Homo sapiens: one gene and its partners. The protein of the gene in region 3 interacts with the protein of the main gene of each other region in a biochemical or structural test. Each region holds a gene or a part of one and is shown on either strand. Other genes may lie near its edges.

The links.
Region 1: of the proteins of PPM1A (region 3) and CDC42BPB, one has a biochemical effect on the other in vitro, tested with the Homo sapiens proteins (one study listed by BioGRID).
Region 2: of the proteins of PPM1A (region 3) and PAK2, one has a biochemical effect on the other in vitro, tested with the Homo sapiens proteins (one study listed by BioGRID).

What each region holds. Positions count from the first base shown.
Region 1 is NC_000014.9:103,055,564-103,059,314, forward strand, and holds the start of CDC42BPB (serine/threonine-protein kinase MRCK beta), read right to left. Parts: upstream 1,987-3,751; 5' UTR 1,611-1,986; coding exon 1,436-1,610; intron 1-1,435. UniProt on the Homo sapiens protein: Serine/threonine-protein kinase which is an important downstream effector of CDC42 and plays a role in the regulation of cytoskeleton reorganization and cell migration. Regulates actin cytoskeletal reorganization via phosphorylation of PPP1R12C and MYL9/MLC2.
Region 2 is NC_000003.12:196,826,712-196,830,462, reverse strand, and holds part of PAK2 (serine/threonine-protein kinase PAK 2), read right to left. Parts: intron 3,268-3,751; coding exon 3,130-3,267; intron 2,145-3,129; coding exon 2,058-2,144; 3' UTR 1-2,057. UniProt on the Homo sapiens protein: Serine/threonine protein kinase that plays a role in a variety of different signaling pathways including cytoskeleton regulation, cell motility, cell cycle progression, apoptosis or proliferation.
Region 3 is NC_000014.9:60,294,078-60,297,828, forward strand, and holds part of PPM1A (protein phosphatase 1A), read left to right. Parts: 3' UTR 1-3,751. UniProt on the Homo sapiens protein: Enzyme with a broad specificity. Negatively regulates TGF-beta signaling through dephosphorylating SMAD2 and SMAD3, resulting in their dissociation from SMAD4, nuclear export of the SMADs and termination of the TGF-beta-mediated signaling.

The DNA of each region.
Region 1 (3,751 bases), about 43 Mb from region 3:
TTAATTTACTGATACTATAAGTAACCAAGAATGGTGGTTCCCACGGAAATAAAGCATCACAGGCTGTCCTTGATCTCAGGACCTCTTTCTACTGCTGCTCTCACAAGATACCGTGTAACATTTCACTACAGAGTAATCCAACAGAAGCCCTCTAAAGAATATTGCAACTTAAGTTTTATTTGTAAACAAAATTCCAAATTCCAGTCACCAATCTGGCAGAGTAGAGTAGGAGGCCTGGAGGCCTCACTGTGGAACACTTTCATTTGTTTCTTCGTATAAATATCAGCTTTATCAGCCCCAAAGATTAGAAATTACTGGTTCGAACTGAACAGTCCTAGCCCAGTGACGCAAATGACCCAAGGATAAGGTTTTCATAGGTTTGGCCTGAACATACGCATTTCCTCCTCCTACTCAGTGGTTTTAGGTGAGACAGTCTGAGGGTCTTGACCGGCACACCCGTTAGGGAGAGATGAAGTAAAAGAGTTTCACGCTGCACTTTTACCTGTCTTTAGGATCCTAATTATCGTTAAATGGTTTAATCAAATTTTTGTCCTAAAAAAGCATAATAGGTTAGCTGACCAATGATTAAAACATTATAGATCCGGAACGAACTAGAGAAGGCATGCAAAATTCAGATGAGAAAGTTTCTAAGTGATAGCTCCAGCTACCCCTCCAAATATCACAAAGGTCTAGCAGAATTGGAATTAAAAAAAAAAAGTCCTCTTGCACGGTTTATTTAAAATAAAGCCTTAACCTTAAAATTCCCTTGAAGGTGTTACAGCAAAGTAGGTATTCAGGCTCTGACCAACAAGGGGATGTAGACAGGCTGTCACCCAGGAGGGGCCGTTAGAGCTGGGCTCCCTGGGGATGCAAGGGGGTCCCACGGGGCAGTGGGCGAGGCAGATGCAGAAAGCACACCCAGCTGCCCCCACAACGCAGAGAAGCGTGGGGTGGGGAAAGGGAACTAATTCCACACTGCCTCCGGACCCCAAAGGCGAGGTGCGGGGGCGGGGGCGGGGGCGGGGGCGGATATCCCAGTGAGTGCTGCAGGAAATGATATCCAGACTCGGAGGGTGGATCTAGGAAGCCGCCAGGGCGAGGGCCCGGCGGGGGGGAGGGGGTGGGAGTGGGAACGTAGGATGTGGCTCCAAGGGGCAGGATGAGGGGGCGGGACGATCGAACGCGGATGTCGAGCCTAGGGAGGGCAAGGAGGGATGAAAAGCTAGCGGAGGGACGAGGGTGCAAGGAGCGGCTGGAGAGAGATGGGCTGCGGGCCTGGGGGCGCTGCCAGAGCGAGAGGAGGCGAAGCCCACGAGCTGGGTGGGCAGGAGGGCGGCAGGGTCTGTCCGGGCGGGGATGGGCGGGCGTGGGGATGCGCGGGCTGGGGCGCGGGGGTCGCAGAGCCGCAGGTCCGGCCCTGCCGGCGCGCACTTACCCCACTCGAGGAACTCGGCCACGTACTTGTCGCGGCGCAGGGCCGAGTGGCTGCACTCGGTGTACAGGCAGACGAGCACGTCGAGCAGCGTTTCCACGCTCAGGGCGCTCTCGTTGCGCCAGGGCCCGTCCAGGAGCAGCTGCTCCAGCTTCTTGAGCCGCACCTTGGCCGACATGGTGCCGCGCGGCCCGCTCCCGACGCGCCGGCCTCTCACCGCCGGCTCGGCCAGTCCGTCAGGGCGCGCCCTCGGGGGCTCGGCGGCTGCGAGCCCCGGCAGCAGCGGCGCCTCCTCGCCGCCCCGTCCGCGTCGTCGCGCCCCGGCCTAGGCCGACATCTTGGGCTCCGTCCCGACGGCGCAGAGTCTGGGGCGCCGGGCCCCGCGGGTCCATGGGCCGCTCTCCTCCCCTCGGCGCCGCCGCCCTCCCAGCTCGGGCGGCCCGCCCCCGCCGCCCTCAGCCCCGCCCGCGGCCGCGCCCTCCCCGCCGCCGCCGCCGCAGACTAGGAGCGGCGAGGAGCCTAGCGCTGCGCAAGCCCGGCCGGCGCCCGAGCCCGACCCCAGCCCCGACCCGGCGGCCCAGCCCCGCGGCCCGCAGCCAACCAGGGCGCGGCCAGCACCAGCGCAGCCAACCACTACGGGGCCGGCCGCCGCCGCGCTGACCTCAGCGCGCCGCCCCGCCCCGCGCCCGGCTCCCTGCTCCCGGCGGGCTCGGGCCTCGCCGCTTGCCGTAGGGAGCCGGGATGCTGGGAAGGCAGGGCCGGGCCTGGGGAGCGGCGCGGGGTGGGGGTGGGGGGGGCGGGGCGGGGCGAGTGGGCCGCTGAGATTGCGGAGCCCGCGCATGCGCAGAGCGCGCCTGGTGGGCGTGTGCGCCTTCGCCCTGCGGACCCGGTGCCTTCAGTATTCGGGGTCCGACCGCGCGCGTCGCGGATCCCGGGGCCGAAGACGACCCCAAGTATCGGAGAGGCAGAGTCGCGATCTCAGGCCGTCGAGCCCCGTCCCGCAGTCCGCGGGCCCATGTTGCCTGCGGGGCCTCGGACCTGCCCGGCCGAGGTGGGGGTCGAGGGCGGCCCGGCAGGCGCAGCTCTGATGGCCTCGGCGGGTTGTGGGCTATTTAAAACGGCTTGTCCCAGCTCGAAGCGGTCCTGGAAGACTCGGGCCCTACCCCTGACTTTACCGATGAGAGACTGAGGCCCAGACGGTGTGGGGTCAGGGCCCAGGCTTCTGGGGGATGCTGCCAAGGCGGGAGCCAGCGTCCCCAGTGCCCGGTGGATTCGTGATGGCTTGCAGAGGGTTTCAGTTTCCACTGTCCAGCCCTCCCTGCAGACCAATGCCTAGGTGTGACAGTTTGGTAGGAAAGGGGCCGGATATTTGTCTCCAGGCTGGGTTTGCCTAGCGAGTCGCTGCATTTACTAAGATTGTTGGTTAATTTGGGTGGCTGGGGGAGGGAGGCTGATGGAGATACCCCCCAACCCCAACAAACCCTTGGCGTCAGGAGAGGAGGGGCTTTTCCTGGAGCTTGCGGAAGGTCACCGAAATCGTGGGGGTATCTGAGAGCTTCTGGGGCGCGCGGGTGCAGGGGAAGGGGTCATGCTTCCGTGGAAGCGGTGGCCTCCAGGTGGAGCCGATGAAGGGGCAGATAGGGGTTTGAAGCAGGACGTTAAGGGAGCCTGAAGCAAAACTAATCTCTGGAGCTAAAAATAGGAGTGGGCCTGGCGCGGTGGCTCACACCTGTAATCCCAGCACTTTAGGAGGCCGAGGTGGGCGGATTGCCTGAGCTCAGGACTTCGAGACCAGCCTGGGCAACACGGTGAAACCCCGTCTCTACTAAAATACAAAAAACTAGCCGGGCGTGGTGGCGCGCGCCTGTAGTCCCAGCTACTCGAGAGGCTAAGGCAGGAGAATTACTTGAACCCGGGAGGCGAAAGTGCAGTGAGCCAAGATCGCTCCACTGCACTCCAGCATGGGCAACAGAGCACGACTCCGTCTTAATAATAGTAATAATAATAAGAAGAAGAAGAAGAAGAAGAGGAGTGGCTGCCTATGCCGGAGTTGTTGACTGGAACAAGAGGAGGAACCTTCTGGGCTGCTGGTAATGTTCTATGCCTGGATTTGGGTAGTAGTTACATGGGAGCACGCATAAGTAAACATTCTTCAAACTGTCTTCTTAAGATGAGTGCATGTCACTGTGTGTATGTATATATAATACCTTCATTTCTTAAAGGCAGGTGAGAACAATCTGGCGTTAGAGGTGAGAGTACTGGTTGCCTTTGGGGTATCAACTGGAAGGAGGCACAAGGAGAGGCCTCTAGGGGGCTGGG
Region 2 (3,751 bases), on a different chromosome or scaffold from region 3:
TTCTATTTCATTGGTAGCATCTTCTTTATCATAATCCATCCAACTGTTTACAAAGAATGGTAAAATTTGGAACTCAGGTGGCACTGCAGCTTTCTGCCAGAAATAAACCAGTTTCTATAATTCAGTAATAGCTGTAGAAGGCCAATATATTCCAGAGAAAAATGAAATCAAGAATTATATTGAAAACAGAGACCATTAAGTGCTCTAAATATGTTTCATTAATTATTTTACTCATTTTTCTGAAAATCTTGCCTTATCAATAAAAAACAGTCACTTCTCTCCTTATAATTGCATCTTATCATAGATATAGTGGAAATAAAATAATGGAAATAAAACCTGCCAGTTTCTCCAATGTATACTACAACAGCAAAATTATTTTTTATTCATGATTTATACTACTGCAGGATGGCAAGCAGGGGGGAAGTTAATGGGGGAAGGGGATGGTGGGAACAAAATGCCAGAACCAAACCACAGATACTTGAACAACACCCACTCCAAAAGCAAAACAATGAATAAAGGAGAAGAAGAGGAGAGGAAAAAAGAGAAGAGAAAAGGGAGGGGAGGGGAGAAGGGAGGGCACTCAAATAATTAATGCTACAGGTCTCAGACCTTTTAGAATCTTTAAAAGAAACAAATTATTGCTATCAACACGCACATTTCATTTTCCTTTCTCGTTTTTTACAATAGTCTCTACTTATTTGAAAAAACAAAACAAAACTAAACTAAAGTAACTCAACATCTCAAATGATCTATAAATTCATCAAGAAATACTCTGTCGCTCAAGTTCTCATAGATAATACCACACTGCTGACGACCTGGGGCAATGCCACCGCCGCCAAGTCTCTACAGTCGATTTGCTATCGGCTGCTTCTCTGTAACACTAACATTCTCTTTCATGAGTATAATCTCTTCTCACTGTATCAGAGCTCACCAAGGTTCACATCTCTTACTGCCTCTGCTGCTAGTCCCAAATATTTTTCTCCTTTAAGTGGAAAAAAGCTAATTTTTAAATTCCTGAAAATTCACTGGTTATTATATTATTTGCCATGGGAGGGGGTATCTGTGAGGTGAGAGAGGATTAATGAAAAAGAAAAAGAACAAACCTAAACCTAAAATTGCAACATATACAGAAATTTATTTCCAAATTGAAGGGGGAAAGGAGGGAAGAAGGTAGTGGCACTAACCAAAGTCACAAAGCCCAGGTTGGAACAACAACAAATCACTTTGGTTCCTAGAGCCAAGCCTGAAGGGGAAACAGGCAGAAGGGAAGACAAAATGGGAAGAAGTCTACAGTCAATGGGAATCTTTTTCTATCTCAATGATTTAGTTATAAATAGAGATTATTAGTCTTCTCTCTATACATGTAACAAATGCCGAACTTACTACCACGAAATTTCTAAAACTGACTTTTTCACATTTGTTAAAAAAGGTAAAAATCACATACTTTTCTTCCCTTCCTTCAGGTCAAGTTCTGAACTAAAATATTACATGTAACAACAGCTGGTCCTAACTTTTATACAAAGTGAAACTATATAGAGCTCCTTTGCCAACATAAGGAGCTACATAATTTCTATTACACTTGCCTAGGCATGAGAAACGCAAAAGCAACTCAAAAGGAGCAAGTCCAGGAAAAGAAAAGCTATGAAGGAGAGAAAGACTAGCAGATGAAACACATACTCTGAAAAACTCCAATCTGCCATTCAAGTATTGGAAATACCCCAAAGGGGACAATGAATGGGATCTATTACAACAAAGTCAGCAAAGTAAAATGCAAATCTCACACATGATAAATGGCCCTGATAGGCTGTTTGCTGAAAGACCTAAGGCTAGTGATTCAGTCCACAATTCCTTCTGGACCCTAAAGAAGGGGTTCATATAAAAGTCATACTTGTCTTTTTGCAATTTTCTCTTGGTTGTCTTCAGAGAATAGTCATTTGCTTCTTTCATTCAGGTTATGCAGACCATTTCTTTAAACCCCAAAAAGAGTAATAATTTTCATATACTAAAAGGCTTCTTGTAGAAAATGGAAAAAAGAGTATGAGGCCACAGCAGTGATGTTAACGGTTACTCTTCATTGCTTCTTTAGCTGCCATGATCAGTGGTGTCAAGCTAGATAACGGTTTGGCCAGTTTCAGGAAAGGATGCTGCCAGAAAGAAGGGGAAAAATAAATGTATAAGTGCCATTCATCAGGTTAGAAACAAAATAATTTTGTTCAATTAAGCCCCAAAGACTACTTGTCGATCATAATTTAATAAACTAAACACATATTAATACCTTCATAAGACTAACATAATCAACGCATTACTTTCAGAGTTGAATGAAAGCAGAATCATTTTAGTTTGACAAATATACACACAACAGCAATAAACAGGTCTGAGGAGTGATACGATGCACAAACTGTAAACAGGTCTGAGGATTGATACGATGCACAAACTGTAAACAGGTCTGAGGATTGATACGATGCACAAACTGTAAACAGGTCTGAGGATTGATACGATGCACAAACTGTAAACAGGTCTGAGGATTGATACGATGCACAAACTGTAAACAGGTCTGAGGATTGATACGATGCACAAACTGTAAACAGGTCTGAGGATTGATACGATGCACAAACTGTAAACAGGTCTGAGGATTGATACGATGCACAAACTGCACATTACGGTTTTGTCAGAATTTTATTCACAGCAGATGAAACCCTCACTTTTTTTTTTAATACTTTAAGTTCTAGGGTACATGCGCACAACGTGCAGGTTTGTTACATATGTACACATGTGCCATGTTGCTGTGCTGCACCTGTTAACTCATCATTTACATTAGGTATATCTCCTAATGCTATCCCTCCCCACTCCCCCCACCCCACAACAGGCCCCGGTGTGTGATGTTCCCCTTCCTGTGTCCAGGTGTTCTCATTGTTCAATTCCCACCTATGAGTGGGAACATGCAGTGTTTGGTTTTCTGTCCTTGCGGTAGTTTGCTCAGCATGGTAGGATGAAACCCTAAATTGCAGCAGCTGCCATACCGCTGGTGATCAATGAGTAGTGAAATCTACTTATTAGCCCTAGGAAAGCTTTCTGTCGGTTACCAAAAAAGTCAACTATTCCCCCAAATGAAATCATTTTTAAATTTACCTGTAATAATTCTTTGGCTGAACCCCTTTTTTCCACATCCATTTCCAAACATCGATTTAAGAAATCCCGAAATATTGGGGAAAGTTTCTCTGGATTCTGAAGTTCTGGGGTTCCATTAGTTGCTATTAGGTACAAGGCCTAAAAATAGAAGAACATCTTTGATCCACTTAAGATAGCTCAACACGGTCACAGAGCACTCCATAAAGTCTAAGGGATTCTTTCTTCTTTAAAGAAAATCACCATAAATACTAAACTGGGGTTATCATTATCCCATTTAAATTTAGATTTGATACTTTCCTCTTATTTTTAGATGTTACATTTCCTTAAGTTACTTTTCTGAAATCAGATTCACCTTTGGTTTTTCTTCGGTTATAAATGCAATACATATTGCTTTTGTTTTGTTTTTTTTTGTTGAGACGGAATCTTGCTCTGTCACCCAGGCTGGAGTGCAGTGGTGCAATCTTGGCTCACTGCAACCTCTGCCTCCTGGGTTCAAGTGACTTTCCTGCCTCAGCCTCCCGAGTAGCTGGGATTACAGATGCATACCACCATGACCTGCTAATCTTTGTATTTTTAGTAGAGGTGGGGTTTCATCATATTGGTCAGGCTGGTCTTGAACTCC
Region 3 (3,751 bases):
TAAAAACCAGTATAGTCCATTTTGTTATATTTGTTTTTTCCCTAACTTGGAAATATACATATTTGTATATATAGCCTTAAAATTAATGTAAAGTTAGGGGAGTAGTGGGGAAAGTAATGTGAAATGTCTCAGATTTAAGTAGTTAAATACCAGCAAAATCTTTTCATTATCCCTCTTATTTTGTGAGGTGATTAAATGTAACTTAATTGTATTTAATTTATATCTTATTCCAGCATGAATGAGGAAAAACTGAAGTACTATTTATATTTAGAAATTCATATCAGTTGAAATTACAGAACCAATTCCATACTTACAATAAATACTTAATGTCTAAATCTGTGGTAGAGTGCGAAGTATGATAATGTTCTAAGTTATGGCTTTGCAAGCATCTAAATGTGCATTTAATGAATACCAGTGCTTCTAGTATAGACTAATTACCAGACATACTGGTACTGAAAGCTAAATCCCTATTATAACAAACCAGTTCCTTAATATTTTAAGTAGACTGACAACTTTAGTTCCAGAAATTGCAAAACTTTGAACTGGACTGTGTAATCTTTTGAGATGCAAAACTTAAGTCACAAGTAGAGTATGTGATGGAAAGCTGTATTTCAAACCATAACAGCATATTTAGAGCCTTTTTTTTTTGAGTCTTTAAACAAGAGAAAATTAAAATATTCCTGTCAAAATTATTAGTATTGAAATTAGGCTTGGACACGAGAGAGAACCGTATTTGAGTGATGTGAGAAGACTAAATCTTTTCCACATGAGTCAGCACTGCCATACTAATAATTTTTTTACTATAAAAATACAGGAAGGAAGTATACATTATAACAGCAGACTGTGTGTGTTCCTGATTCCTGGAGGTAATAGTGGGGGGAAACCAACCATACTTTTTAAAGGCACTTTTGCACCTCTATTGTGCACTTCATTCTTGTACCACTTAAATTCTTCACCCCCATCCCCTTTTTTTGTGCTAATTAGCATCTCAGGGCAATGCCTCAAAAATGTTTGATGTGTTCTGTTCTTTGGAGGGAAAAAGTTCTTATGTGATGATAATATAGTACTCAAAATATACTTTTATCATTTAAATGTCTTATTTGCTGCTATGAATAGGAAATAACATTTTGTATAGCAGGCTCTGTTTTACCCTAACATTAAAAAATTTCACTGATCTTTCTTTCATTAACAGGGTAGAATCTCCTAATTTCCACTTTCTTGGGAATATACTTTTATAGACAATAGAAGCAGTTCTCAATATTAGCATATACTTTAAAAAATCAAAGTGATAACTTAATTCAGCTTTGGAAGTATCTCAAACATATTTTTACTTTATAGTGCATTAACTTGCTTCTAGAGTACTTAATGCAACTGCTCTAGCCACTTAATTTTTTATACTAATCTCAACATTAAGAAATTTGGATTAAGTAATAAATTAGTTATGTAATTCAAGTAATCTGAATTACAGCAGTACTTTTAGTGATCATTCATAGGACTATATATTAACCCAGCTAATAACTCAGTTTTTTTACAAAATGTTTCGAGTATTATTGGTAAAACACTGTTCTAGGCTAAGCACATTGGGACTGTAAAGAAATGAGTAGATCCTTGGCTTCAAGTTTACATCTGGACAATTTATAATCTAGTGTATGTTAGTATTATAACTGGATCACTCATCAAAAAATATATATATATATCTATTGCCCACCTGCTATCTACCAGGTACTTAGCTGATCAAGGCAGGCCCCTGCCCTAAAGACCTTGTTTATACTTCCTTTACTCACCTGAAAACTGTTCTCCAGTTTATTTTCTTCTCTCTAAAGTTAAAGAGTAATTCAGAAGAAAATTTTGCTTAGCATAAGAATAAAATTGGACTGAAGAGGCTTAAGCCCATTCAGTATCCTTGATTGCATTTATCCAACGGCCTTTATTCTTCCTGCTGACAGCAGTAACTCAGAGGAATAGGTAGTAGATTTCTGAAAATTATCCAGCCATGGAAATGTAGGTGGGGTTTGAGTTTAAGGCATTTAAAAATGTAAATATCTCTAGCTAAATTTATCTTAAGTAGAACTCTGTGTTTTTGTAACACACTGCCAGTGTTAATATCAAATTTTAGCCAAATTATTACTATGTGTTTTAATATTTTAAAATAATTTCACTGCCCATCTTTACTGGACAAACTCATTTGGAGTTCAACTTGTGATTTCTGAAAGAACTGATGAAATTGGGTACTGCTTTTTTTCTCCATTTTTCGTTTTGTTTTAATTTTGAATTTCATGGTATATACTTTTAGTTCAAACTCAGCTGTTTGTACAGTATTGTATTAGGATTTGGTATTAGAAAAGATGTGTAAATATCTTAGTATATAATTGTTTCTCATTTGAGGTTTTTCTTCTAAGGGACCTTAAAGAGTTTTATATACTTTTGCTCACAGAAACTGCTGGTGAGATTACCATTTTTTGAGTATCTAGTCTTCTAGTTTTTCTTTTAGGCATTAGGAAGCCTTCTTTAGAGTTCAAAATTTTAGAAGCCTAATTTGCTCTTACTTCCTTCAATTATGTGCCATGTGTTTTGGTTTGTATATGTTTTAAATTGTATATTTCCTTGGAATATGCTTGAAATATTTAAGAATACATTTTCAAAATGTATAATACTGTATTGTTTTGTTGATCAGAATAATAAGTCTCAGTTAAATGTTTGTTATTACTGATAGTCAAAATGCTCAATAGAAATGATGAGAGGCATTGGTTCCAATTCATTGTCAAATGAACGTTTTCTAATTTTGTTCACAGATTCTTTCCCTTTCGATTGTTCTGTATGTTAAGATAGTGGCTTCTGCTCTCACTGTTTTCCTATTTATATTACTAGCAGGTAGGAGTGCTAATTAGAAAAACTTAGATGGTATTGAAATTACAGTTGACAACTTATATTTTTATGAGATGGAGAAAAAAGATTAAGTTGATATAACAACAAAGTGGACTTTTTTTCTTCCTTATCCTGCACGAAATATTGCCCTTGTTTCCTCTACTTTCCTCTTGGTGTTTTCTCTTTTTTTCAAACAGAAACAGGCCAATTCCATTTTCTTGAGCAAGAAAGCTTAGTGTGTTACTTCATCAAGGCCAGCTAATACTGTGTTAAACCGGGCTGAAAATGAGAAAACTTGGGAGATGGAGGAATGGGGAAATGGCAGTGGGATAGGTAGGGAAGGATTACTCTTAATTGTTTTAAAAGCCATAGGAAAGTCTTCCTTGTACGTGGCTGTAAATTTATAAGAACTATTGTGTCACATAAACCAACAAGAATGAACCTTTGCTGCTTCAGATAATTTGATTTTTCCAGCAAGGAAATTAATAAGTTACTGATTCTTCAGCATAGAAACAACTGAGAAGAATTAATGCAATGTTTCTTCACTAGAAAACCCAACCCTTCATTTCTTTTCATTGCTCCAAAACCCAGTTTTCAACTAATGGTTTTCTCATTAAACTAAATGTTTAGAAAAGTTGTTTAGAGTTTTTCTTTTTCTTTTACATAGTCCTCCTGATCCAGTATAAGACTATTTAGTAACGTGCATTTGTATGGTACTATCTAAAGTAAGTTAGATTGATGTAAGAGATCGGGTAGCTGCGGAACAAAATTAGTTATATCCTAATTAGGTACAGTGAATGACACAAAATCATTTTAGCAATGCTTCTTAACCTTTTGGGGTCACAGGCGTTTTGAGACTGATGAATCCTAGGGACTTATTTACCCA